6 separate regions of the Homo sapiens genome follow, and all the other regions are linked to region 2. Evidence: fine-mapped expression QTL. A gene starts in region 2. Each other region holds a variant in brackets. All regions are shown on one strand. Distances are from middle to middle.

Region 1 (4,600 bases), 28 kb after region 2:
CCACGGGCCATAGTTGCCAGCCCGGCTTTAACTGCTGGTCCTCACGTTAGTCTCACTGCCTCCTGCAGGGTGGGCATGTGGGTGTCGTGTTCACGCAGCCCCTTCCTCCACCCCACAGACACGCTGGTGGCTGTCCTGGAGCGCGACACACTGGGCATCCGTGAGGTGCGGCTGTTCAATGCCGTTGTCCGCTGGTCCGAGGCCGAGTGTCAGCGGCAGCAGCTGCAGGTGACGCCAGAGAACAGGCGGAAGGTTCTGGGCAAGGCCCTGGGCCTCATTCGCTTCCCGCTCATGACCATCGAGGAGTTCGCTGCAGGTAACAGAGCTCGGGCTCAGGGGCTGGTTTGGGAGGGGAGTGGCACACAGGTGGGCATCTGGGTACCGAGGATAGTGCCCCCGAGTTCACTGCGGAAAGCCTGGCAGATGCCTGGCATATACAGATAGGAAGAAACCTGGCTTGTGAGGACGCGTCCACAGGGCCATCTGTTAGCCCCGGCCCGGCTCTGTCCCCACCGTGCACACTGCCAGACCCCGCCTCTCGTGTCTGTCCAGCTGTTTTGGTGGCATCTTCCCAGGAGGGAAGGGAGTCCCCGTCTCGCGCCCTTGTGCTACCTGCTGGTGCAGGTACCAGTGTCTGTGACGAGCTCAGGAGGGCTCTGACATGGCCGGGGTGGCTGTCATGCGCCCGAGTGGGCCTTGGGGTCCCCTGCTGCAGGGCCTGGGTTCCAGGGTGACGTGAAGGGGCAGCGCTAACGATGCCTCCTGCCCTCGTGGCTGCTCACTGCCTGACGCCATCCAGCTCTGGAGCAAAACAGGCCTGGAACTTTCCAGAAGGGGCTGGGACAGAGCCCTGGGGCTGGTGCACACTCGCCGTCTGGCCTTCCCCAGGTCCACGCGGCCCCCGCTCTTGCTTAGCTGAAGGTCGCCAGATTTAGCAAGAGGGTCTCTGTCGCCCAGGCTGAGTGCGGTGGTACAATCACAGCTCACTGCAGCCTCGACCTCCTGGGCTCAAGTGATCCTCCTGCTTCAGACTCCGGAGTAGCTGGGATCACAGGTGCCACCACCACACAAGGCTTATATTTGTATTTTTTTGTGGGGACAGGGTCTTGCTATGTCACCTGGGCTGGTCATGAACTGGGCTCCAGCCATCCTCCCATCTCGGCCTCACAAAGTGCTGGGATTATGGACATGGGCCACCGAGCCTGGCTAGATACATACTTCTTAAAAATACAACTGTTGATCAGCTGGGTGTGGTGGCTCATGCCTGTAATCCCAGCTACCCGGGAGGCTGAGGCAGGAGAATCACTTGAACCCAGGAGGTGGAGGTTGTGATGAGCCGAGATCGCGCCACTGCACTCCAGCCTGGGCAACAAGAGTGAAACTCCATTTAAAATAAAAAAATATATACAATTGTTGGCCAGGCTGGGTCACTCACTCCTGTAATCCCAGCACTTTGGGAGGCCCAAGATGGGGGGAATCACTTGAGGTCAGGAGTTTGAGACCAGCCTGACCAACAGGGTGAAACCCCGTCTCTACTAAAAATACAAGATTAGCTGGGCATGGTGGCGCATGCCTGTAAACCCAGCTATGCTGGAGGCTGAGGCAGGAGAATTGCTTGAACCCTGGAGACGGATGTTGCGGTGAGCCGAGATTACGCCACTGCACTCTAGCCTGGGGGACAAGAGCGAAACTCCGTCCTGCACTCTAGCCTGGGGGACAAGAGCGAAACTCCGTCTCAAAAAAAAAAAAAATTGTTAACATTGTTTATTGAGTTTTGATACTCAGTCTTCCTGATTCACTTAACCCATAATGGTCTGTTTCTCACCAGTTATTAAACTGTGTCTGCACTGGGCTGGCTTGCAGCTGAGCGATGCGGAGTTGAGCCCACCTTGGTTGATGAGTGATTAGGTCTCAGGCAGGCAGGGCTGCTCTCATTAGAGCAGAGGGTGCTGTGTCCTGGCACTCCTGGGGGTGGATGGTGGACCCCCAATTCTGCCCCTCCTGGCCTCCCCTCCCTACCCAGAGCCCCTTCACATCCCATGCACAGTCCCTCTGCCTGTGACATCTCTGCACCGGGATTAAGAGCCTGGCTCTTGGAGTCTGCCTGGGGTCCGCTAGCCATCACCCCTGGGGGTGTAAGCGCTTGAGAAGGTGTCTGCCTAGGGCCCACC[G/A]TGGAGAGGAACCCCCAGACTGCTTCTAGAAGCCAGGGCTGCAGCCTGGGGGGTACAGGCCTAGCAGGGAGCCACAGTGACCCCTCCCAGCCAATGGCCCTGAGAGAACAGGCAGTGGAGCCCCCCGCCCCCACCCACAGTGAAGTGACGGGTGGTCCCTACAGTGGGGCCAGACCCTGAGACATCACCCCTGAGTGAGTGCATCTGTCAGACCCTGAGGCATCGCCCCTGAGTGAGCGTATCTGTCGGCCTCTGGTCTGTGCCCTGGGACCTCTCCCTAAAAGCCCAGGCAGCAGGGGCCATGGCTGGTGGCTAGTCCCCCGGGGAGGGGCTGCCCAGGTCCCTGCACCTTGAAAGTCCGACGCAGACATCTTAGGGGGAAGGAGCGTGTCCTCCCAGGCACTCGGGATCCTGGGGTGCAGCCCGGCCCTCCCCCACACCCTCCCTGTGCTGCAGGTCCCGCACAGTCGGGCATCCTGGTGGACCGCGAGGTGGTCAGCCTCTTCCTGCACTTCACCGTCAACCCCAAGCCACGAGTGGAGTTCATTGACCGGCCCCGCTGCTGCCTGCGTGGGAAGGAGTGCAGCATCAACCGCTTCCAGCAGGTGGAGAGTCGCTGGGGCTACAGCGGGACCAGTGACCGCATCAGGTGGGGCTTGGGGTGCAGGCGGGGGGGTCCGGACATGGGGGTGGAGGACTCGGGGATGACGGAGATGGGGGGCCGGGCATGGGGGTGGAGAACTCAGGGATGATGAAGACGGCGGGGGGGCCGCCGGGCATGGGGGTGGAGGACTCAGGGACGATGGAGGGGACCGGGCATGGGGGTGGGCTCGCCCCAGCTCACCTTAGGCTATCCCTGGGTATCCACGCTGCTGCCTGTCATCTGCCACGGCAGGTTCTCAGTCAACAAGCGCATCTTCGTGGTGGGATTTGGGCTGTATGGATCCATCCACGGGCCCACCGACTACCAAGTGAACATCCAGGTACCAGCCCCAAGCCTCATCCCCAGGCCCCACTCAGGCCCATGTCCTCTCTCCACCTCCATGGAACCCTGGCTGAACCCCCGGCCCTGGTCCCTGTGCTGCCCCCACCCTGGGCAGGTGGGCTGGGCCTCGAGGGGTCCCCGTTGGCCCTCCCCAGGCCTGAGCCTCCCACTTCCCACCTCCCCGCAGATTATTCACACCGATAGCAACACCGTCTTGGGCCAGAACGACACGGGCTTCAGCTGCGACGGCTCAGCCAGCACCTTCCGCGTCATGTTCAAGGAGCCGGTGGAGGTGCTGCCCAACGTCAACTACACGGCCTGTGCCACGCTCAAGGTGCGCCGCCGGGGACAGGGGTCCCTCCGTGGGAGTCTCTGGCCCATCCTGAAGCCACCGGGGCACAGCACACACTCTCCAGAGGCAGCCACCCTGGCCCAGTCGGGGCCTTGCCCTGTCCACACCTGGGGCATCCCAGCCTGGTGGTCCTTGACCTCACTGTACCCCTATTCCCTACAGGGCCCAGACTCCCACTACGGCACCAAAGGCCTGCGCAAGGTGACACACGAGTCGCCCACCACGGGCGCCAAGACCTGCTTCACCTTTTGCTACGCGGCCGGGAACAACAATGGCACATCCGTGGAGGACGGCCAGATCCCCGAGGTCATCTTCTACACCTAGGCTGCCCGACACCGACACCGCCCTCCCTCCGTGGGGATAGCCGCAGCCCCAGGCCATCATCTGCTGCTGGGGCCCCCCCACCACGCGGTGCCAGGCCCAGTGTCCCCCAGGCCGTCTGTCCACTCCATGCCACCTTTCTCAGCATCAGGACGGGGTTGCCCTGTGTTCACCACGAGTGTGGCTGCTGGATCAGGGCAGCCGGGGAGGTGGCCAGGCCAGTGGCCAGGCCCTGTGGAGACAATCCCTCAGGACTAGGGACAGGGCTGTGCCGGCCTGGGCCAGGGCCCACGGACCCGCAGCTCAGGGCGCCTGCCCACGTCGTCTGCCGGCGGTGCGCCGCGGGCGTCCCTCGCGTCTCTTCACTGCACATTGCAATGCATTTGCGATTCCCATTTCTCTGCTAGGAGCCAGCCTGGGTGGCGCTGCTCCCAGAGCCGTGGGTCCCAGACCTTGCGTTCCTTTTGTTCCTGTCCGTTTATCAGGACACGGGCCCCACCTGTCACGTGCCCGAGGCCACCCAAGCCCAGCCTGCGGGGCGTTCCCACTGCCTGGATGCCGGCTTGAGTTCTGCGCACGCAGGATTCAGTGTGGGGACGGCCCCTGCCGGATAGGCCTAGCCCTGGCCCAGGTGGTGAGCGGTTTGCAGTGTCCGTTCTCATCCACCTGATGGGCCCAGATAAAGGCCCCCGCTGTCCAGCCTCCCTGGACGGCCCTCGCGGTCCCTGCAGCCCAAGATGGGACTCAGACCCTGTGCCCCAGAGCTCCCCT
Region 2 (4,600 bases):
CTCCCGCCTGTAATCCCAGCACTTGGGGAGGCCAAGGCAGGCGGATCACCTGAGGTCGGGAGTTCGAGACCAGCCTGACCAACATGGAGAAACCCCGTCTCTACTAAAAATACAAAATTAGCCGGGCGTGGTGGTGCATGTAATCCCAGCTACTCAGGAGGCTGAGGCAGGAGAATCGCTTGAATCCGGGAGGCGGAGGTTGTGGTGAGCTGAGATCGTGCCACTGCACTCCAGCCTGGGCGACAGAGCAAGACTGTCTCAAAAAAAAAAAAAAAAAAAAAAAAAAATATATATATATATATATATATGTATATACATACACACACACACATATAAAATTAGCCAGGCATGGTGGCAGGCGCCTGTAGTTCCAGCTACTCGGGAGGCTGAGGCAGGAGAATGGCGTGAATCTGGGAGGCGGAGCTTACAGTGAGCCAAGATCGCGCCACTGCACTCCAGCCTGGGCGACAGAACGAGACTGTCTCAAAAACAAAACAAACAAACAAAAAAAAATTAGCCTTAGCCAGGCGTGGTGGCGGGTACCTGTAACCCCAGCTACTCAGGAGGCTGAGGCGGGAGAATTGCTTGAACCAGGAGGCTGAGATTGCAGTGAGCCAAGATCGCCATCACTGCACCCCAGCCTGGGCAATAGAGGGAGACTCTAAAAAGAAAAAAGAAAAAAGAAAAAAAAATTGTAACTACCTCAACCACCCACTCTGGAGAACTGAAAATAGCATTATCACTTGGGTTTTTTTAATACCCTATTTTCTTTTTCTTCTTTGTTTTTTTTTTTTTTCGAGACAGGATCTTGCTCTGTTGCCCAGGCTGGAGGGCAGTGGTGGAGTCATAGCTCATCAAAAGCTCAACCTTCCAGGCTCAAGTGATGCTTCCGTCTCAGCCTTCTGAGTAGCTGGGACAACAGGTGCGTACCACCACGCCTAGTTTTTTTTTTGTTTTGTTTTGTTTGTTTGTTTGTTTGTTTGAGACGGAGTTTTGTTCTTGTTGTTCAGGCTGGAGTGCAATGGCGCGGTCTCGGCTCACTGCAACCTCCGCCTCCCAGGTTCAAGTGATTCTCCTGCCTCAGCCTCCCGAGTAGCTGGGATTACAGGCACCCGCCACCAAGCCTGGCTAATTTTCGTATTTTTAGTAGAGATGGGGTTTCACCATGATGGGGTTTCACCAGGATGGTCTCGATCTCCCGACCTGGTGATCCGCCCGCCTCGGCCTCCCAAAGTGCTGGGATTACAGACGTGAGCCACCGCGCCTGGCTAATTTTTGTATTTTTTGTAGAGACAGGGTTTTGCCATGTTGCCCAGGCTGGTCTCCAACTCTTGACCTTAGGTGATGCACCCCCCGCCTTGGCCTCCTGAAGTGCTGGGATTACAGGCGTGAGCCACTGCGCCCGACCTGGTTCCTCAATCTTTGTGGCATTTGTCTACCTTGACATTATGTATGTAGTAAGCGTTTTGGGGGAGTCCCAGCTCCGTCCACACTGACCACCCCCCACACCTGGCCTGGAGAGGGTGCTGGGCGTCTGCTGAGTGTCAGTGCACGTGGCCTGCATCCTGCTCGCTCATCCGCAGCTTCCCGGCCTCAGGCTATGTCTCTGTACAGCGGAGCCTGCGCCACGGAGCAGGCCCGCCACCTGGGTCCGGGGTCTGGGGTCTGGAGTTTGCGCTTGGTCTTTGGGTTGGGGGTTCCGGGTCTGAGGTATGGGATCTGGAATCCGGAGTCTGAAGTCTGGGGTTCAGAGTCTGGGATCTAGGATTCAAGGTCTGAGGCCTGGGATCCCGGACTGAGGTCTGTGCTCCAGGGTTTAGGATTCCCGGTCTGGAGTCTGGGGCCTGGTGCCTGGACCCCAAATTCTGGACCTCGGTCTGGAGTCTGGGCTTCAGGTCAGGATGCTTAGGGAGTGGAGCAAGAGGTCTTCCACCAGCTCCTCCCCTCTACAGGCCCCTCCTACTCTTCCCTCTCCTCCCCGTCCCCTCCCCTGCAACAGCCTCCCCCATTCACCTCCCTTCTCCCCTCCCTCCTCCCCTCCCACCTCCCCTCCTTTCCCCTCCCTCTCCTCCCCTCCCTCCTTCCCCCTCCTTTCCCCTCCCTCTCCTCCCCTCCCTCCTTCCCCCTCCTTTCCCCTCCCTCTCCTCCCCTCCCTCCTTCCCCCTCCTTTCCCCTCCCTCTCCTCCCCTCCCTCCTTCCCCCTCCTTTCCCCTCCCTCTCCTCCCCTCCCTCCTTCCCGCTTCCCCTCCCCTCCCTCCTCCCCTCCTTTCCCCTCCCTCCTCTTTTCCCCTCCCCTCCCTCCTCCCCCTCCTCCCCCTACTCTCCTCCTTTCCCCTCCCTCCTTCCCTCCTCCCCTCCCTCCTTCCCTCCTCCCCTCCCCCGCCCACGCCGCAGCCACAAAATGGCGGCGGGTGGGAGCGGCGGGCGTGCGTCGTGCCCGCCGGGGGTCGGGGTCGGCCCGGGCACGGGGGGCAGTCCCGGGCCCAGCGCCAACGCCGCCGCCACCCCGGCCCCCGGCAACGCGGCCGCCGCCGCCGCCGCCGCCGCCGCCGCCGCCGCCGCCCCTGGGCCGACGCCGCCCGCCCCGCCGGGCCCCGGGACAGACGCGCAGGCCGCGGGCGCGGAGCGGGCGGAGGAGGCGGCGGGCCCGGGGGCGGCGGCGCTGCAGCGCGAGGCCGCGTACAACTGGCAGGCCAGCAAGCCCACCGTGCAGGAGCGCTTCGCCTTCCTCTTCAACAACGAGGTGCTGTGCGACGTGCACTTCCTGGTGGGCAAGGGGCTCAGCTCGCAGCGCATCCCCGCGCACAGGTGGGCGCCCCGACCCCGCCAGCCCTGGCCCCGACCCACCCAGCCTGCTGCCCGGGCCCTGCACCTGAGGCCCTGCACCCCTCTGTCCCCGAGACCCCCGCACCCCTCCATCCCCGAGCCCTGCACCCCTCTGTCCCCGGGACCCCTGCACCCCTGCATCCTCAGGCTCCGAACCCAACTCGGCCTGCACCCCGGGGCCTGCACCTGAGGCCCTGCACCCCTCTGTCCCTGGGACCCCTGCACCCCTCCGGTCCTGAAACCGACCCGGCCTGCACCCCGGGGCCTGCACCCTTCCATCCCTAGACTCCACCCAGTTCCCTGGGCTCTGCACCCCTCTGTCCCTGCCTCTGCACCTCTCTGTCCCCAGACCCCACCAGGCCTGCACTCTGGGCCTCTGCACCCCTCCATCCCCAGGCCCCCCTGGATCCTCCACCTCTGGCTTGCGCCCCCAGCCTGTTCCCCGGGATCCCAGGCCCTGTACCCCTGGGACCCCTGCTCTCCTCCGTCCCTGGACCCACCCAGCCTGCACTCCGGTACCCTCCGTTCCTGGGACCCTCCAACTCGGCCTGCACTTGGAGCCCCTGGGCCCCTCCATCCTCAAACCCCACCCAGCCCGCACCCCAGAACCCTGAATACCCCATCCTCAGGGCCCTCCACCCCCCGCCTGCACCCTAGGACCCTCCATTCTTCCATCCCCAGGACGCTCCATCCCTGGACCTCACCCCTCCCTGCACCCCAGGTCCCCAGACACCTCTGCCCCCAGATCCCTGGGCCCCTCCACCTCCGGCTGGAACCCCTGCCTACACCCCAGGCCCCTCCATCCCTGGACCCCACCTGGCCTGCATCCCTGGGTCCCCTCCATGCCCTGGCCCTGCACCCCCACCCACCACCCCTGGGACTCCTGTGACCCTCCAACCCTGGGACGTGTACCCCTATCTGCTCCTCCATTCCCAGGACCCCAACCCACTGTTTCTAGGACCCATGACCCCACATGCCACACCCCTCCATCCCTATACCCGGGGATCCTCAGGACCCCTCCATCCCCAGGCCCTGCACCCTTGCCTGCCGCCCCTCTCCCCCTGGGACCCCTACTGGTGACCCCTCCGTCCCTGTACCCAGGGACTCTCCAGGACCCCTCCTTCCCCAGGTCCTTCACCCCTGCCCACTGCCCTTCCACTCTCTACTCCCGGGGCCCCCTGGGACCCCACTACACTCAAGTGTGTCACCCCTGCATCCCAGGATGGAGAGACTTCTCCGCTCTCACCTGAGACCCCCCGTCCCCAGTCCTCACCACCTCAGTCCGTAACCCCCAACCTATGACTCCTGAACTCCAGGACCCCTCCCTTCAGGGGTCGTGCTATTTCCTCCACCCCCACCCATGACCACAAGACCCCTCCCTCTTCCCCCACCATCCAGGGACCCTGCCACTCCCACCCGCACCCCTGTGCGCCAAGACCCCTAGGCCTTGCTCCCTGCGTCCTCCCTGCTGCCTCCAGACCCAGTGACCCCCACCGGAGACCCCCAGGCTCAGCACATGATCTGGATCAGAGACCTTCAAACCATGCTGCTCCCCTCCAGGGATACCCCCTGCCCGCCCTGCAGTCCAGATCATAGACTACCATCCACAGCCCCTCCAGCCCCGGACCCCCACCTCAGCCAGAGACCCCTGGGCCCTGCCACCTCCCACTTCAGTGACCACCCACCTCCAGCTCCGCCACTGCCAGGCTCTGGACCCTGGACTCTGCAGAAGGTTGTCTCCCCTGGGCCCTGCTACCCCCTGCACCCCATCCTA
Region 3 (4,600 bases), 57 kb after region 2:
TCCACCCAACGCCTCTGTGTAGGGGAACAAGCAGCAGCGCTGACCACTGAGCCGGCCTCAAGTCCTCCACCCGCCACGGCCAGGTTCTGGCCATGGGGACCGCCCCCTCCACGCCCCTCCACAGCCATGAGAGCCACGGGAACAGCCCCCTGACAGCGAGAATGCCACAACCGCGACGGCCAGGGCTGGGGTCACACTGGGCTGTCCCTGTCACAGCCCGTCCATCCGTCTTTCCACTGCGGCTGCCAACGGGACGGACAGGGGGACTTCCGCAGAGGACCACCATGCGGGGGCGACGCATCCACAGGAGAGGAAACCGGAGCCCGAAGCCTCTCCTCTGCCCACGCCCCGCCGCACACCGGCCCACACCTGGATGAGCCACCAGCACGGGGACATTCTCCTTCTTCTGGAAACCCTCTCAGCATCCACAGGAAGAGGGGGCTGAAACGTCCGTGCCTGCATTTTGTTTTGTTTTGAGACAGAGTCTCGCTCTGTCGCCCAGGCTGGAGTGTAGTGGTGCGATCTCGGCTCACCGCAGCCTCCGCCTCCCGGGTTCAAGTGATTGTCCTACCTCGGCCTCCCAGGTAGCTGTGATTAGAGGCATGTGCCACCATGCCCGGTTAATTTTTGATATTTCTGGTAGAGACAAGGTTTTGCCACGTTGGCCAGGCTGGTCTCAAACTCCCGACTTCAAGTGATCCACCCACCTTAGCCTCCCAAAGTGCTGGGATTATAGGTGTCAACCACCACGCCCTGACTACTATTAGATTTTCCAGCCCACAAGAAAGCAAAACCACATGCGTGTACACAGACACACACACGGAGACCCCAGGCGCAGGCACACGGGGGACACGGCAGCGTGTCAGAGCCGGGTGTGAGATCCAGCACGGCAAACATCCCGAGGGGACACTGCCCAGAGGCCCCGCCTGAGGCCAGCCTGCTCGCGCCACACTGCCTGCCTTTCTCGACGAGGGCTGGAGGCTGCCCGAGAGGCAGCATCCTGAAGACACAGGCCTCAGCTCTCCCCTGCCAGAAAGCGGCAGGACGTGTGGGCCATCTCAGGGGACTGCGTGCAGAAGCCGGGTAGGGAGGGGGAAGGGGCAGGCGCCATCCGGGGGACCTTCCCTGTGGACTGAGGGCGAGAAGGCCCCAGGTCCCGGATGTACCTATCTCCTAAGCAGGACGCCTTTTCTTCCTACACGCCCCTGTGCTGACGCAGACATTCGGCTGTGGTAGGGTCAGGACTGGCACCAGGGAGGGCAGGGAAGCTCCGGACCCTACATGGGGCCCTGGACGTGGGTGGGGGTTTCTGCCTGCCTGGCTTCCCCCAGGTTATGCCCTTTACAACAGCAGGGAACAAACTCTCACTCCCCAGTTCCGAGAGTCCTGCAGGAGGACCGTGAACCCAAACGGGGTTGTGGGAGCCACAATGTGTAGCCAGGGATGTGGGGACCCAGGGTGGCACTAAAGGTGGGGCGGGTGCTGGGGGACCCACGGTGGCACTAAAGGTGGCACAGGTGCTGGGGGACTCAGGGTGGTACTAAAGGTGGGGCGGGTGCTGGGGGACCCAGGGTGGCACTAAAGGTGGGACGGGTGCTGGGGGACCCACGGTGGCACTAAAGGTGGCACAGGTGCTGGAGGACTCAGGGTGGCACTAAAGGTGGGACGGGTGCTGGGGGACCCACGGTGGCACTAAAGGTGGGGCGGGTGCTGGGGGACCCACGGTGGCACTAAAGGTGGCACGGGTGCTGGGGGACTCAGGGTGGCACTAAAGGTGGGACGGGTGCTGGGGGACCCACGGTGGCACTAAAGGTGGCACAGGTGCTGGGGGACTCAGGGTGGTACTAAAGGTGGGGCGGGTGCTGGGGGCCGAGCATTAAAGGTGGGGCGGGTGCTGGGGGCTCAGCCGCAGCCTGTAGGGTCTGTGCTACCCTGCGCAGGCAGGTGTCCGGGCAGGTAAGACACCCCGATGCCACGTCAGGAAAAAGACATCACACCCACCCTCTCTGTGAGCCCCAGAGCTCCAGCCCTTTCCCAGACAAGGGAGTGGGGACACTCACAGGCCACTGAGAGGGAGCTGCCAAAACCCTCGTTGAGGACAAGAGACTGGAGGCCACCAACCAAACCTGAAAAGCAAACGTCACCGACTTCACGAGGAAAACAAATCCATCCCTTCTCGCCATGAGGATGAAAATATCCTCTATTAGATGGCACAGACAGAGACACAGCCTCATGATGAGCTAAAGGCACTGAGCTGCATGAGTTACACAGCTAGCGGGTACAGCCCGAGTGTCACACCTCAGTTATTAATACAAAAACCAACTCGCACCCTGGGAGCAGATGGAGATGCAGACTGGGAAGCCACATGGGGAATTTGGGGAAGGGACGCTCAGGACCCAGAGCCAAAGCTCATACCCACACTCAATAC[C/T]GGCTGCTGTGGCCCTGGACGGGGGTGGGGGGGACGGGGGGAGGGGGGACAGTGCCTGGACGGGGGATGGGGGACGGGGGGAGAGTGCCTGGACGGGGTAACGGAGGACAGTGCCTGGGAGAGCTGGGCTGCTGCGGCCCTGGATGGGGGGACAGGGGGACGGGGGACAGTGCCTGGGAGAGCTGAGCTGCTGCGGCCCTGGATGGGGGGACGAGGGGAGGGGGGACAGTGCCTGAGAGAGCTGAGCTGCTGCAGCCCTGGATGGGGGGACGAGGGGACGGGGGACAGTGCCTAGGAGAGCTGAGCTGCTGCGGCCCTGGACGGGGGGACGGGGGGACAGGGGGACGGGGGACAGTACCTGGGAGAGCTGAGCTGCTGCAGCCCTGGACGGGGGGACGGAGGGACAGGGGACAGTGCCTGGGAGAGCTGAGCTGCTGCGGCCCTGGACGGGGGGATGGGGAGATGGGGGGGACAGGGGAGATGGGGGGACAGGGGACAGTGCCTGGGAGAGCTGAGGCCCTCTAGACACCTAGCAGGAGCCGGGCAGCTCTCCTGCCCTGGTGCACCAACCCCACGGCCCCCACTGCTGAGCCCTGCAAGACGGCCCTGCCGGGCTCCTGTTCCCCTAACATACACACTCGCTGCCCAAAAAGGACGAAGCGAGGCCCAGCGGCCTCTGGGAACCACCGAGAAGGAAGCCGTGCTCTGGACAGACATCAGGGGCACAGGCTTTGGTGGGGGCAGTGGGAGTCCCAATCGCCCCTCAATTCCAGGCAGAGCAGGCAGGTGCCCCATGAGGCTGCGCTGTGCTTCCAACGCCTCCAGACCTGCTCGGGAGGGGCCCCTTACTCAGCCACCGATGTCCCTCAGGTGTCCCATTAGGATGTGGGCAGTGCCGTCGTCAGGACGCGTCCCAACACCCGGCTTCCGGACAAGACAAGCGCACACCTCCAACCCCTCCCTGCACACGGGGGAAGCACGTGGTGACATGAGGCTGGCTCTGCCGTGTGCCCCGCAGCTCCAGGGGGCCCTAAGCAGTGGCCGTGCCACACACACAGTGCCCGCCGAGCGCCCACCCCACATAAACGGCGCCCGCCTAGCTCCCACCCCACAAACACGGCGCCCGCCGAGCACATACCCCCCACACACGGCACCCACCGAGCACACACCCCAGTGTTTCCAGGGGAGATCTGGCAGCTGCTCAAATGCCGCCAGACGCCCTCAGAGGCCCCTCTGTGCCCACGTCTGCAGTCACCCGGGGTCCTGCGCACCCTCCAGTCTCTGCCTGTGTGGTGAGCTGTGAAAGTGGCCTAGCCTGTGGAGCGCGCCCCGGGCGAGGGGACATGGGGGACCTGCAGGGGCAAAGGCATCTGCTCGGCTCCCTCAGTGAGGACAAACATGAAGTGGAGAGAGAGGTGCCTGCGCTCACTGTCCCTCCTAACAGCAAACCCAAGGTCTCCCACAGGCCCGGCCACCCAAGCCGCTCGGGGCAGCCCCCTTCTCTCCCAGGCTGCTCTCTGCTCAGCACTTGGTTTGCACGAGCGCCTGGTGCATCCCGGGACATCTCTCCCCCGGCTCCACTTTCGTCTGTGGTGCCCACGTGACCTCCCGGGCACACACTGCTTCTCATCCTTGCGGGCCTCCAGGCTGGGCAAGGCACCCTCCTGGGCACAGGGCCACTGGCCTGCTCTCCGTGTAGGCTATCCCTCCTGACACGGTGGCCCTCGGGCCTGTGGGGCTGCCTGGAGGGAGGTGGGGCCTGCGTCCAGGTTGCTTTTCTTTCTAGCCGCCCCTGCCTTGCCCTCTCCACAGCCGGGGACCCCAGAGGCCCAATCCCGCCCACCAATCTCCGGGTGGCACCGTTTAAGCCACGCAGCATCAGGGCACGACCGTCGAAGGGGGGCGCCACCACCAGCCTTCCCTCTGCAGAATCCCCTCCTCCTCCCTCCTTCTCTCTTCCAGGTGAGCCATTGGCTTGGTCAGTTCCTTCTGCTGAGAAACCCTGAGTGATGTGTGATTAACTGAATTAACCCATCAACCGCCGCCTGGCCAGGTTCATCGAGGCTGAGCCCTAAATTCCGGAACGAGCCTCCTGGGGCTCTCTGGGGTGTCCTCCTGGCCCGGAGACAGAAGCTTCTGGACGGCTGTCTCACAGCCCCCACGGATGTGGGT
Region 4 (4,600 bases), 45 kb after region 2:
CCACTGCACTCCAGGCTGGGCAACAAGAGTGAAACTCCATCTCAAAAACAAAACAAAACAAAGCAAAGCAAAGCTGAGATGGAAAAACGTTTCATGAAATAATGGCTCACATTTTTCCAAAGTTAATTTGAAAAAGTACCAACACAGAGATCCAAGAAGTCAGTGGATCCCAAGCAGGATAAAAACAGAAAGCCTCATCTAAGGAGAGCATAGTCAATATTTTAAATCAAAGATAAAAACCTTAAAAACAGAAAAAACGACACATTCTAGAACATTCTAGACAACGGAACAACATTCAACAACCGGAGTCCACAACAGGCTCAACATCAAAGCCACCAACAGTCCTGAGTGCTGGGGACGTGGAGTGCTCGAGGAGCCCAGTGCTATTCAGTTCTATTTGGGCAGTTAGTTCTATTCAGAAGGGCCCAAATCCAGAAACAGCCAAGCGTCCCTGCGCTGGGAGCAGATGAAGAAGGGCTGGTGTGTCCTCCGATGGACGGCCTCCCGGCACCCCTGAGAAACCACGATGTGCGGCTGCCCGCGAAGCACACAGCGCCCAAAATGCCAGGCTGAAGAGAGCGCAAACCGCAACTCAGTAAAAGCTGGCGTCACCAGGCCGGGCGCAGTGGCTCACGCCTGTAATCCCAGCACTTTGGGAGGCCGAGGTGGGTGGATCACAAGGTCAGGAGATCAAGACCATCCTGGCTAACACAGTGAAACCCCATCTCTACTAAAAATACAAAATATTAGCCGGGTGTGGTGGCGGGCGCCTGTAGTCCCAGCTACTCGGGAGGCTGAGGCAGGAGAATGGCGTGAACCCGGGACGCGGAGCTTGCAGTGAGCCGAGATTGCGCCACTGCACTCCAGCCTGGGTGACCGAGCGAGACTCCGTCTCAAAAAAAAAAAAAAAAAAAAAGCTGGCATCACCCACGTCACTCTCATCTGCCTACAGGGACCTGCACTATTCAGCAGCCTGCAACCGCCGCCCAAGGACAGGACCCACATAGCCATCTGGGTTCCCAAAAGCCATACCCCGCAGGCTGCAGGTCACGGGGCTGTGCCAGGCATGTGTGTGCAGATGAGCCTGTGTGCCTGTGTATGCGTGGTTGTGGCTGTGTGCGCCTGTGTGCGTGTGCTTTAGTGTGCACATGTGCATTTGTGGGCACGTGTGTACATGTCTGCATGTGTCTGCACGTGTGTCTGAGCGTGCACACACACACGGGGTTGGGAGGCCACAGCTCCTGTTGGGAAAAGCTCAGTCTCTTGGCTGAGAAACGGAGCCCGGGCCTCCTGAGCCACAGGCCGTCGGACCGGCAGTGAGGCTTCGTGGCCCAAGCCCAGCCTCTGCGCAGAGGTGGAATCCCAGCAGCCTCCCCAAGGGCTGGGGTGGGATCTGGTTCGGGTGGGGTCTCAAACCCCGGCCTCCTGGGGCCCTGGGTGCAACCAATGGGAACACAGAAACAGCCAACAGTGACCCCAACAGCTGCCCTCGCCTGGGAGAAGCTGCTTGACTCATAGGACACACACTTCTGCCGCATAACTGCCTGCTGAACCCTTCTGCCCACGAGTGGCAACTACCATTCATCCTCATTTAACAGGTGGGTAAAGTGAGGCAGGAGGTGGGAAGCAGGGCCACAAAACATGCCTGGGGTCCAGGCCGCCACAGCCCATGCTCCTGCGCCCCTGGGCGGCCGCTCTTGAAGATGCAGCCACATCATGACCACTGCGTGGGCCTGTTTCCCTCATCTGACAACCTCATCGGGCTGAGTGCCTGCCATGGGTGCCATGGGCACCGCCTGCCATGGGTGCCCACGTGAGGCCGATCCACTGCCGTGGCCTCTCGGACCTGCCCATCCTGCGCTCTTTCCCAGGGACCCTGATTCCCACCACGACAGACACTGACTGGGGGTGCACCTGGGTTCCCCGGACAACCCCAGCAACAGACGCCAAATGCCCTCCCGCAGGAGCTCCGGCAGCACCAGCAATAAATTTAACCACATTTCCGGGGATGATTCAGCTCCCTGGCCCAGCTAATCACAGACTGGGAACGGCCCCAAAGGTGCTCAGAGCTCCCCCAGGCCTGATGGTCATCTTCAGGCACCCCCACCCCAGGGAAGGCACCCCTGGCCAATGAGAGGCTCAGTCCTCGGCCCTGCTCCTCACGCCTGCCCGGGCAATCAGACCCCGACCCGGGAGAGGTTGGTGTGAGCAGAAGGGACGGAGCCAGGTGGGCCAGGTGCGGCCTTTTACATGGTGAAGCTGGGAGTGGCACACAGCAGTATCATCACCACAGAACAGTCACTCCAGCCACCTGACGCCAGCTCCGGGCTGGCCAAGACCTCCCACGAGCTGAGTGCCGGGCAGGCACCTGCCGTTAAAGCCGGGGCTTCGCCCAGCGTGCACATGGGCCATGAAAGTCATTCACAACTTAACATCGGGCTCCTTGCGGCGTGGCCTGGCCTGCTCTGGGCCACCTGCCTCCCAACAGAACTGTTTCCCGAAAAGGTGACAGGGCCAGAAACCCACTCTCCCCACAGAACCTCCTCGAAGGGAAGTGGCACTCGCACCACGACGGACTGATGATTCAACGCACCTGCCAGTGACATGGGGCGGCCCCGCCAGAGGCTCCAGTGACCCCGGGCGGCCCCACCAGAGGCTCC[G/A]GTGACTCGGGGCGGCCCTGCCAGCAGCCTCCCGACCCCACCTACCACCGAGCAGGGCCTCACCTAGGCGGAGCTCCCCGAAGTTGCCGCAGCCGATCTTCTTGCCGACGCGGAAGTTGGGGCCCACCATCAGGACCCCCGAGCTGGTCCCCGAGCTCCGGATGCCGTGGCTGCTCCGGCCCCCGCCGGCCTTGGACATTCTCCGGCCCTCCTCCGTCTCCCCTTTCCCTCCTTTCTTGTCAAAATCCATAAGTTTGTGATACCCTGGCCTCTCCACGGTGACTCTGCTGCCGTGCAAATCCCAAGTCTCTGGAAACCTGAGGTCTTGGCTCCTCTGTGGCTAGAACATCACTGCGGCCGGTGGGCGGGCGTGGGCCCGTGGCTCCCAGCTACTGAGACGCAGGCGTTCGGGCCGGCCAGGCCGCGCTGCTCTTCTCAGTGGCCTCGGGGTCGCTCTCGGGGGCAGGAGACATTCTGCTGACACATCCCACCGCCTCAAAGCTCACGGCTCACAGCTGCAGAGAAACAGAGGCACAGGTGAGCACCGGCAAGGCCCCCGCGGGGCCACTGAGGACACGGGGCGGAGGCCACAGAGGACACAGCCAGGAGACTGCTGGGCTGGAAGGAGCTCTGAAGGCCGGGGCATGATGAGCACCGTCCCTGCCCGGAACCCAGCTGGGAAGCACACATCACATGACATCAGAGGCCAGAGATCTCGGCGTGGCTGCCTGGGGACGAACAGGGTAGGGCTCAGGGGGCTTTCTGTAAAGCGGGATGGGTGGGTGGGTGGGTGGGTGGCACAGGTGGGAGAGTGTACTGCCAGGAGAGCATGACTGCCAATCCCGGGTAGAAGCCCTGAGGATCCTGAAGCCAGGGGAGCAGTCGCACCCCCAGACACAGAGGGGCCACACAACAGTCCCCGTATCCAGGCCCAGGGCCGCTCTGGGAAAGAGGGAGGGAGGCAGATGACAGCAGGCAGGCCCGAGGCAGGGACACAGGAGCCACCGAGCTGCCCCTGCCCATGGCGACTGGTTGATGCTGAGAGCGGGGAGAGTGGGCCGGAGGGCAGGAGGCCCCGGAGAGCCGGGCACTGATGCAGGAGCCCCCAGGGCCTGACCCAGGCTCGGGTTCTTCTCCAGCAGCCACTGGTGGAGCGGGGCAGGCTGGACGCCACTCGAGGCTGTGATGATGCCAGGCTGGGTCGGACCCATCCCCTTCGGTGCAGAGCGGAGCTGAGGAGGGAATGGCGGGGCTTGAGGGACCAGCGGAGCCAACAGCCACCTAAGCAAGGCTGGGCACGGGGCAGGCAGCAAACTTCTACCCCAGGGGAAAAGACAGAAGCCTCTGGTCCTGAGAAGGAACACGCAGTCCCTGCTCCCGGGATGGTGGGACCCCAGCCCACAGCCCCTCGCTGAGTCTGCACCACCTTAAATGCTCCCGAGCCCAGAGCTGAGGGCCCCAGAGCCTGTTGCCACCCACAGAGAAACGCCGTGTCTGGACAGGGGCTCATGGCTGAGGGGACTCTGTGCAGGTCGCTCTCTGGAGCGAGGGGGCCAGCCAGCCCCGGCTGGCATGGAGCCCAGTCTCAGCGCAGGCCCCGACGGGAGGCAGGACGGTCCCCAGCAAGGAGCCTCGGGACAGCCTGGGGAGGAGGGAGGAGGGAGGAGCCCCACCTGCAGAACTGAAGGGTGGTCAGGGGCAGCCTGGGGAGGAGGGAGGAGCCCCCACCTGCAGAACTGAAGGGTGGTCGGGGGCAGCCTGGGGAGGAGGGAGGAGCCCCACCTGCAGAACTGAAGGGTGGTCTGGGGCAGCCTGGGGAGGAGGGAGGAGGGAGGAGCCCCACCTGCAGAACTGAAGGGTGGTCAGGGACAGCCTGGGGAGGAGCCCCACCTGCAGAACTGAAGGGTGGTCGGGGGCAGCCTGGGGAGGAGGGAGGAGGG
Region 5 (4,600 bases), 33 kb after region 2:
GGAGTTCAGGACCAACCTGGCCGACATGGTGAAACCCCATCTCTACTAAAAACACAAAAATTAGCCAGGTATGGTGGCAGGCACCTGTAATCCCAGCTACTTGGGAGGCTGAGGCAGGCGAATCGCTTGAACCTGGGAGATGGAGGTTGCAGTGAGCCAAGATGGTGCCATTGCACTCCAGCCTGGGCGAGAAAGCAAGACTCCGTCTAAAAAAAAAAAAGCCAGCCGCAAACAGTTGCCAGGAGGCTGAAGGCTGAGCAGATCTCCACAGTGCGCAGTGCTGGGAGCAGGCAATGGAGATGGAGGCTGGCGGGGTAGGGGGCCTTGTCGAACACCCTGGGGGCCGGGCGTGCTGGCTCACACCTGCAATCCCAGCACTTTGGCAGGCTGAGGCAGAACTGCTAGGGGCCAGGAGTTTGAGACCAGCCTGGGCAACACAGCAAGACCCCATCTCTAAAAAAATACATATTAAAAGGAAACACCTTGGGCTTCTAATGAAGACACCAGAAGGGCCACCCACCAGGAGCTAGGGCAACACTCCTGTGGGGAGGACAGAACGGAAGCCGTCATCACTCCAAAACAAAACCCTGGTAGGGTCTCACTGGGCTGCTGTTACGCTGGACCCTGCCAAAAGAAAACACAGCCCTGTGAAGAAACATCAGCACCAGCTTCTACCATCTGTCATTTACAACGTCCAGCATCCATTTAAAAATGACAGGCTGGGCGTGGTGGCTCATGCCTGCAATCCCAGCACTTTGGGAGGCCGAGGCAGGTGGATCATCTGAGGTCAGGAGTTCGAGACCAGCCTGGCCAACATGGCGAAACCCGTCTCCACTAAAAATACAAAAATTAGCGAGGCGTGGTGGCGTGCATCTGTAATCCCAGCTACTTGGGAGGCTGAGGCAGGAGAATCACTTGAACCTGGGAGGCAGAGGTTGCAGTAAGCCACGATTGTGCCACTGCACTCCAGCCCAGGGAGACAGAGCAAGACTGTCTCAAAAAAAAAAAAAAAAAAAAAAAAAGCCAGGTATGGTGGCTCATGCCTGTAATCCCAGCACTTTGGGAGGCTGAGGCAGGCAGATCACGAGGTCAGGAGATCAAGACCATCCTGGCTAACATGATGAAACCCCGTCTCTACTAAAAAAAACTACAAAAATTAGCCAGGTGTGGTGACAGGTGCCTGTGGTCCCAGCTACTTGGGAGGCTGAGGCAGGAGAATGGCGTGAACCCGGGAGGTGGAGCTTGCCAGTGAGCCGAGATCTCGCCACTGCACTCCAGCCTGGGCAACACAGCAAGACTCTGTCTCAAAAAACAAACAAACAAACATGCAAGGTGAAGCACAGTGAGTAAAAACAATGGAAAAACAGAACAGATCGAGATACGTGACACAGCCAAAGGGTTGAACGTATGTGTAAGTGGAGTCCCAGAAGGAGAGAGAGAGAATGAGACTCAAGCTATATGACAGCCAAGAATTTTCCAAAATGAATGAAAGACGTTGACCCACAATTTTTTTTTTTTTTTTTTTTTTTTTTTTTTTGAGACAGAGTCTCTCTCTGTCACCCAGGCTGGAGTGCAGTGGTGCAATCTCGGCTCACTGCAAGCTCCGCCTCCCGGGTTCACGCCATTCTCCTGCCTCAGCCTCCCGAGGAGCTGGGCCTATAGGTGCCTGCCGCCACGCCCGGCTAATTTTTTGTATTTTTAGTAGAGATGGGGTCTCACCGTGTTGGCCAGGATGGTCTCGATCTCCTGACCTTGTGATCCACCAGCCTCGGCCTCCCAAAGTGCTGGGATTGCAGGCGTGAGCCGCCGCGTTTTAAAAACTTTGTCAGTGGAGCATGCTGGCTCATGCCTGTCATCCCAGCACTTTGGGAGGCCGAGGTGGGTGGATCACTTGAGGTCAGGAGTTCAAGACCAGCCTGGCCAACATGGTGAAACCCCGACTCTACTAAAAATACAAACATTATCCAGGTGTGGTGGCACACGCTTGTAATCCCAGCTACTCGGGAGGCTGAGGCAGGAGAACTGCTTGAACCCGGGAGGTGGAGGCTGCAGTGAGCCGAGACCACGCCAATGCACTCCAGCCTGGGTGACAGCGAGACTCTGTCCCAAACAAACACTTTGTCAACCTGGAATGCCACTACCAGCAAAAACATCCTTATTAAGAAAGGTGAAATAAATATTTTTTTCAGGGAACAAATGCTAATTTGTAATTTGTTACCGACAAAGCTGCACTCGGCCCGGCGTGGTGGCTCA[C/T]GCCTCTCATCCCAGGGTCACTTTCCCACCTCGTCCTCCGCAAGTGCCTGGACAACAGAGCCAGACAGGCAACCCTATCTCTACCTAAAAACAAAACAGAACAAAACAATTAGCTGAGTGTGGTGGTGCACGTCTATGGTCCCAGATACTTGGGAGGCTGAGGTGGGAGGATCGCTTGAGCCCAAGAGGTGGAGGCTCCAGGGAGCTATGACTGTGCAACTGCACGCCAGCCTAGGCCAGGCCCTGTCTCAAAAAAAAAAAAAAAAAAGCTGCACTGTAAGAAATATTGAAGTTCTTCAGGCTGAAAATTATCCCAGAGGTAGTTTTGGGATTCTGTCGCCCGGGCTGGAGTGCGGTGGCGAGATCTGGGCTCACTGCAAGCTCCGCCTCCCGGGTTCACGCTATTCTCCTGCCTCAGCCTCCCCAGTAGCTAGGACTACAGGCGCCCGGCTAATTTTTTGTATTTTTAGTAGAGACAGGGTTTCACCATGTTAGCCAGGATGGTCTCGCACTCCTGACCTCGTGATCCGCCAGCCTCGGCCTCCCAAAGTGCTGGGATTACAGGAGTGAGCTACCCTGCCCGGTCCCAGATGTAATTTCTGATCAGCAGAAAGAAATGAAGAGCATCAGAAAAGGTTAACATGTGGGTAAATATATAAAGCACATGACAAGTAGTCCTTATCCCCAAGCTACTGCCGGGAAAACCATCGATGAGCTCATTCCATTTCCCTCTTGCCATCTGACTCTTACAGGTGCATTATTTCTGCTTTGTCACAACATATTACGGTGGTACTGGTCTTCCACCCTTGCTGCCGGGTATGGGGTGTTGTCTGGGGAGAAGGCACGGGGCGGAGCCGGGGCTAGTGCTGCCAAGGTCTTCACCTGCCTGCAGTTTCCGCTGTTCTTCTGGGAGCTACTGCTGATTCCCTTCACAGTGTCGTGGCCCCCGTGGAGATGTTTTCTGCCCTGCTGCGTGAACAGAGGGAGTCAAGGAGGCCTTCCGCCGTCAGAGCAGCCAGGACCATCCTGCCTGGGCCCCGTCGCTGAGGCTTTCAGGTATATTTGTGTAGTGTCGGGGAACGGGACCCCCGGGGCCAAGTCGCATGTGTGTGACTTCCCCTTTCCATGGTACGTGAACACTCGTCTCCTGCCCTCTCCCCAGACAGAGCCCAGCTCTGCCCTCTGCTTCCATCTTCCTTACCTTCCGCCTCATCAGTCGGTTTCTGTTACCGGAGGCCGCCAGCCGCTCCGGACTCGTCCCGGACAGGCAGGATGGGGATGGAAGCAACGCCCGTTCCAGGTCAAGCTTCGTGGAAAGCCCAGACAAATCCCTCTACACTTGGGTTTGGTTTCATTTTTCTTTTATTTTTTTAAAAAAGCCCCTAAATTCTATGGCTTCAAGGGAGCATCAGAGAAACGTAAATGCCATTTCTGTACACTTGGTAAAGCAAAAACTAGACTCACAGCCACCGCCCTGGGCACGGCCCCAAGCTGCTCCACTCTGCCCGGCAGCCTCCAGGGCACCCCACTGGGGAACCGCCCGCCAGTCCAGGGCCGCCCCCAGGCCCCTGCAATATACCTGCAGGGCTGGGCCGGGGGCTTTAAGGCGTTTTGTCTCCGGCTGCTTGCCGGGTGTCGGAGCAGAGAGGCAGGAAGCTCCGTGCCCACGCGCCCCACGCGGCAGGGCTGAGGGCCGAGCAGGGTGACACCAACCGGTCCTCCCACCTCGGGTTCCAGGCGCCGGGGCGCAGCCTCCGGGAGCAAGTGCGTCGAGAAGCACCCGCCTGGCAGCGCCCACCCGCCCCTTGCCAGGGCCAGGCTGGGAAGAGACTGCAGCAGCCGTGCCCGCGGCGCCCGAGCTTTGGTGCAGCATTTTGGTTGGGGAGCCGGCTTCAGCCACGGCCCCACCCCTGCCTTCCCCTTTGGTTTCGGGGAGGCCTGGGGCACGGCCTCACCCCTGGCAACAATGCCTGTCCCCCTCCCAGGAGGGCCTGGGCAAGACAGCTCCACAGCACCCCTCCAGGCCGGGCCTGCCCTCCCCTCGAGAAAACGGCCTTTGGATCGAGGGAGACAAGCTGGACTTTATGACGCTAACGGGGGCGGCTGGCGGGGCGGGGCCAGGCCGGGGGGCCTCCAGGATCACACTACTCACTTCAGCAAAGAAACGGAGGGGCAGGAGTGGGGTAGGGCGGGCCTCTGTTTTTTTTTTCCTCTTTTCCTTGTTTTAAATAGTTAATGCTCTTGGAGGGGAGGACTAGACACAGGTGTAGAAATTTCGGCCAAAGTCTTACATGAAGGAAGTGACCCCACGTCCCGGGGGTGGGGCCGCCTGAGCCAGGCGCGGCCC
Region 6 (4,600 bases), 92 kb after region 2:
TTTTGTGTTTTCAGTAGAGACAGAGTTTCACTATGTTGGCCAGACTGGTCTTGAACCCCTGACCTCAGATGATCCGCCCACCTCGGCCTCCCAACGTGCTGGGATTACAGGCGTGAGCCACTGCGTCTGGCCGATGTTTGCTTTTTACGTAGGGCCAGTGACACTGGCTTTCCATCTGTGCAAGTTTCCTTTTTTTTTGAGCCGGTGGGGAGTGCAGTGGCGCGATCTGGGTTCACGGCAACCTCCGCCTCCCGGGTTCAAGCAATTCTCCTGCCTCAGCCTCCTGAGTAGCTAGAACTACAGGCACCCGCCACCGCGCCCGGCTAATTTTTGTATTTTTAGTAGAGGCCGGGTTTCACCACGTTGGCCAGGATGGCAGGGTCAGCCCTGGGCACACCTGGCTACAGGGCACCCGGGGCCTGGGTGGGAGGAGGCGCTGCAGGGGGGCATCCTGCCAGAGGCCATATGCTGAGGGGTCTCCCAAGGGAGAAGACGGCCTGGGGGAACCACACATGCTCACAGCACAAACGCGGCAGGTCCCTGGCTCTAAGTGCAGAAACATGTATTTATTTCCAGGATATTTTCACATAACAAAACCCCAACGATGCGGCGAGGGGCCACACACGGCGGGGGAGGGGTGGGGGGGGGTTGGGCCTGCCAGGTGAGATTTTGTCTGCATCAGTGCAGGCGAGAGGCTGGGGAAGGGGGTGCCTCTTGGCAGACTGGCCGGGGGCAGGACCTGAAGACCCTGAAGCATGGCCGTGAGACCCATGGGTGCTCCATCCTGGCTGCCGTCCATCGAGACACCATGGCCGCCTCCGGGCACCCAGCGGCATTCCGTACCAGCGAGGGGACTGGCTCACATCCTGGGGAGGGCTCCAGGGCAGCAGGCGTCCTACAGCAACAGCATCCTGGGGGTGAACGGGTGGGGAGGGGTGGCAGCCTGGGGTGTCCAAAGTTGTGGTCAGCGAGTGCAGGAAATGATGAAGGAAAAGTTTCTTTTTGGCCCAACCGTTGTGAATGGTGCTGTGAAAATGTCTTGCCTGGGAGAGGTGTTCCAGGGGGAGTTGGGGGGTGAGGGGACAAGACAATTGTGGCCGCTGCCGGACCCCTCCATAAGGCACAGATTTGACGGGTCCCCTCTCATAAAAGGCCACTCCAGGCTGGGCGCGGTGGCTGACACCTATTATCCCAGCACTTTGGGAGGCCAAGGCGGGTGGATCACTTGAGGTCAGGAGTTCGAGACCAGCCTGGCCAACATGGTGAAACCCCATCTGTACTAAAAATATAAAAATTAGCTGGGCGTGGTGGCAGGCAACTGTAATCCCAGCTATTTGGGAGGCTGAGGCAGGAGAACTGCTTGAACACGGGAGGCAGAGGTTGCAGTGAGCCGAGATCACACCACTGCACTCCAGCCTGGGCGACAGAGTGAAACTCTTGTCTCAAAAGAGAAAAAACAAAACAAAACAAAACACAAAGGCCTCTCCTGCAGGGCTCCGGCTGCTGGGAAACCGGCTCTCTGCCGGTTTGCTGGGTTTGGGGAGCGGCTGTGCTCCCGACCTGGCCTGGGTCCCCGACTCTGAACTCAGGGGCGTGGAAAGACAGCCTGCCAGGGATCCCTGTTTTGGAGGCAGGGAGGGTGGCCCCAGGATACCCTGGACCAGGAACTCCCCAGGTATGGTGCACGTGGGGAGGGGGCGAGGCTGGAGCCGCACAGATCAGGGGATGGCGGGGACAGCGAGGACTCAGCTAGGCACCAAGCCCTCTATCACTGCAGGGGACCGGAAGCTGGCCCCGACGCCTCTTATTAGTTC[C/T]GGCCAAGGGCATCTGCCATGGTGACGGCGGGTGGCCGGTGAGACGGAGCTCCCCATCAGACCCGCTCTGACCTCAGCGCCAGCAGCTCTGGGAGGACGGGAGGGCGGCCGACCTGCTGCCACCTGTCCCCCGGAGTCAGGCCTCGAGACCTGAAGACAAGGCCGTACCAGCCGTGCAGTGGACGGCGGGTGACCACACGTTTCCGGGAGCAAGAGGGCGTCCTGTGGACGGCAGAGGCCAAGGGCTGCTGGGGAGTGCTTGTGAGGAACTCCGCTCTCGGATGAGATGAACACGGGTTCTGTGGCCCTGGCAGGAGGGGGGCGGTCCGTGGCCACCACCGGCTTCCACCATCCCAGCTGGGGGGATGGGGCCCCAGGTACTCCCAGCCCTCGGGACCAGGGGTAGCAGCAGGAATGAAGGGGAGGAGGTGGTGGGCGGTGGGGGCAGGGCAGGCTCCCTCTAAGGCCACTGGCCACTGCCCGGGTAGCTGGGCACAGTGGGGTACTCGGGCAGGCTGTTGCCTGAGAAGTTGTTGTACTGGGCCTCCCTCGACGGTGGGTTCCGCCAAGTGCCCGTGTTCCACTCCGTCTGTGCCTTCTGGAAGCTTCCGCCAGCCCCTCGGTAGATCCTGTGCACCTGCAAGGACAGAGGACAGGGAGGCAGAAGACAGAAAATGAGCATGGCGGCCGGGCACGGGGACTCACGCCTGTCATCCCAGCACTTCGGGAGGCCGAGGCAGACAGACTGTCTGAGCTCTGGAGTTCGAGACCAGTCCAAACAACATGGTGAAACCCTGTCTCTACTACAATATAAAAAATAGGCCGGGCACGGTGGCTCACGCCTGTCATCCCAGCACTTCGGGAGGCCGAGGCGGGAGGATCACGAGGTCAGGAGATTGAGACCATCCTGGCTAACACGGTGAAAACCTGTCTCTACCAAAAATACAAAAACAAAATAATTAGCCAGGTGCGGTAGCGGGCGCCTGTAGTCCCAGCTACTCGGGAGGCTGAGGCAGGAGAATGGCATGAACCCCAGAGGCGGAGCTTGCAGTGAGCAGAGATCGCACCACTACACTCCAGCCTGGGTGACAGAGCGAGACTCTGTCTAAAAAAAAAAAAAAAAAAAAAAGCATTTTGCTGTAACTGAAAGTTTCTGTTATGAGCCCAGCTCAACACTTCCGCTATCTTCAGATGGAAACTGTGACCGGGAACCTGCAAGGGGCCCCACCCTCACTGACAGGACAGCTCCAGGGCCTCAGCTGTTCCTGCAAACACTGCGGTTTACACACAACCCCTGCTTCCCTCTGGAGTCTGGACTCCCGGCCCAGGGGGCCACAGGACTGGCCCCATAGGAACCCAGGCGCTGGGTCCCTGGGAGTGTCCCTGGTGACAGTGCCTCCTGCTGTCATCCCAGCTCACTGCTGGGGATGAAGTGCGGCCTGCGTGACACCGTGGGGAGAGGGCCCGGCTCCTCGACGTTCACCCACCTGGGACAGTTGGGTGACGAGGTTCATGGAGAAGGGGTAAGGGCTGGACGTCACAAAGCCGAGGACTCACCTTCATGATCGCGATGGCCATCATGGCAGCCGACACGGAGAACATGATGGCTGGAAGCAGCATGACCACGGCAGCGCCCGGGCTGTACTGGAAGAATCCAATTGCCGACAGCCAGCCGCTGCAAGGGACAAGAGAGTGCGTGGGTGCCTGCACACCTGCTGGATGAGGGCCCATGGTCCGGCCCATGGTCCTCCCCATGTAAAGAGCTCTGGCCAATCAACAAGGAGTGGACAGCTCATACAAGGACGACCAAGTGGCCAACAAACATAAAGCGATACTGAGAGGCACCAACTTCAACGCGTGAATACGACCTTATCCCTCCACCATCGCAGCAGTGAGCCGCGTGTGCAGTGGACACAAACTTCGACGCGTGAACACAACCTTATCCCTTCACCATCGCAGCAGTGGGCTGTGCGTGCAGGGAATGGAGACCAGTGCTTCCCCATTAGTTTCCCTCAGTGAGTCCGGCGGGCACCAGCCATGGAAAGACTCAAAGGCCCCACTGAGCCTGCTACTAAGAACCCAGCCTACGGCAACTGTGTCTAATGATGGGAACTGCTGAAACCTACATCCGCATGTCCGGGAGCAATGCGGATGGAAAATCTGCCACCATCACCCGGTGGGCACTGAGGGACCATTAGAAACAATGAGGAGGCCGGGCGCAGAGGCTTACGCCTGTCGTCCCAGCACTTTGGGAGGCCGAGGCGGGCGGATCACTTGAGGCCAGGAACTGGAGACCAGCCTGACCAACAAGGTGAAACCCCGTCTCTACTAAAAATACAAAAATTAGCCAGGCATGAGGGCGCATGCCTGTAATCCCAGCTATCTGGGAGGCTGAAGCGGGAGGCTGCAGTGAGCCGAGATCGTGCCGTTGCTCTCCAGCCTGGGGGACAGAGCAAGATTCTGTCTCAAAATAAAAAAACGAGGGAAAGCACTGCTTAGATCAGCCACCAGTGGGACACTGGGAAGGCCAGCACGCCCTGGGTCCCTCTGTGCAGGACCAGCCTCTGGGCATTGCACCTGCCTTTGAGACCCAGGAGGCAGAAAACAGTCATTTTGAGATTTTTGTCTTAACAGGTGATGAAACCACAGGGTTTAAAATTCAGGGAACTTAAAGGCAGGCACGACGTACAGTCTCTCTCCTGCTGACTCCCCTCCCTGGTGCACAGGCAGCCCGCAGGACCCACACCCCCGGATGTGTCCGGGGAGCTTATGCACACACATGCACG

Evidence for each region. PIP is the estimated chance that this variant, and not a neighbour inherited with it, causes the effect. A credible set is the group of variants that fine-mapping cannot tell apart.
Region 1: its variant is the best candidate, but not a certain one, in a credible set for the expression of BTBD2 in sun-exposed skin (GTEx, PIP 0.67).
Region 3: its variant is the best candidate, but not a certain one, in a credible set for the expression of BTBD2 in stomach (GTEx, PIP 0.53).
Region 4: its variant is the best candidate, but not a certain one, in a credible set for the expression of BTBD2 in thyroid (GTEx, PIP 0.66).
Region 5: its variant is the best candidate, but not a certain one, in a credible set for the expression of BTBD2 in prefrontal cortex (CommonMind, PIP 0.74).
Region 6: its variant is the best candidate, but not a certain one, in a credible set for the expression of BTBD2 in whole blood (TOPMed, PIP 0.86).

The regions. Positions count from the first base shown.
Region 1 is chr19:1,985,720-1,990,319 of GRCh38, reverse strand. BTBD2 (BTB domain containing 2) reads left to right here. Exons shown (of 9, transcript NM_017797.4): 5 at 119-316; 6 at 2,628-2,820; 7 at 3,067-3,154; 8 at 3,344-3,490; 9 at 3,671-4,600. The coding sequence ends at 3,832. It overlaps LOC124904610 (a long non-coding RNA gene), which reads right to left and starts at 2,628. Exons shown (of 2, transcript XR_007067086.1): 1 at 1,826-2,628; 2 at 1-1,362. The variant G/A (reference allele first, on the strand shown) is at 2,172.
Region 2 is chr19:2,013,505-2,018,104 of GRCh38, reverse strand. BTBD2 (BTB domain containing 2) reads left to right here and starts at 2,391. Exons shown (of 9, transcript NM_017797.4): 1 at 2,391-2,808. The coding sequence starts at 2,402. LOC107985278 (a long non-coding RNA gene) reads left to right here. Exons shown (of 4, transcript XR_001753845.2): 3 at 805-922; 4 at 1,011-1,760. RefSeq lists silencers at 2,585-2,734, 2,745-2,794.
Region 3 is chr19:1,956,764-1,961,363 of GRCh38, reverse strand. All of the region lies in intron 1 of CSNK1G2 (casein kinase 1 gamma 2), which reads right to left. Among named protein-coding and RNA genes, the nearest start is that of CSNK1G2-AS1, 4.5 kb to the right of the region's middle. The variant C/T (reference allele first, on the strand shown) is at 2,429.
Region 4 is chr19:1,968,083-1,972,682 of GRCh38, reverse strand. CSNK1G2 (casein kinase 1 gamma 2) reads right to left here. Exons shown (of 12, transcript NM_001319.7): 2 at 2,724-3,175. The coding sequence starts at 2,910. Among named protein-coding and RNA genes, the nearest start is that of CSNK1G2-AS1, 16 kb to the right of the region's middle. The variant G/A (reference allele first, on the strand shown) is at 2,661.
Region 5 is chr19:1,980,336-1,984,935 of GRCh38, reverse strand. CSNK1G2 (casein kinase 1 gamma 2) reads right to left here. Exons shown (of 12, transcript NM_001319.7): 12 at 3,598-4,600. Among named protein-coding and RNA genes, the nearest start is that of CSNK1G2-AS1, 28 kb to the right of the region's middle. The variant C/T (reference allele first, on the strand shown) is at 2,254.
Region 6 is chr19:1,921,959-1,926,558 of GRCh38, reverse strand. SCAMP4 (secretory carrier membrane protein 4) reads right to left here. Exons shown (of 7, transcript NM_079834.4): 6 at 3,372-3,489; 7 at 546-2,451. The coding sequence ends at 2,275. Among named protein-coding and RNA genes, the nearest start is that of CSNK1G2, 17 kb to the left of the region's middle. The variant C/T (reference allele first, on the strand shown) is at 1,815.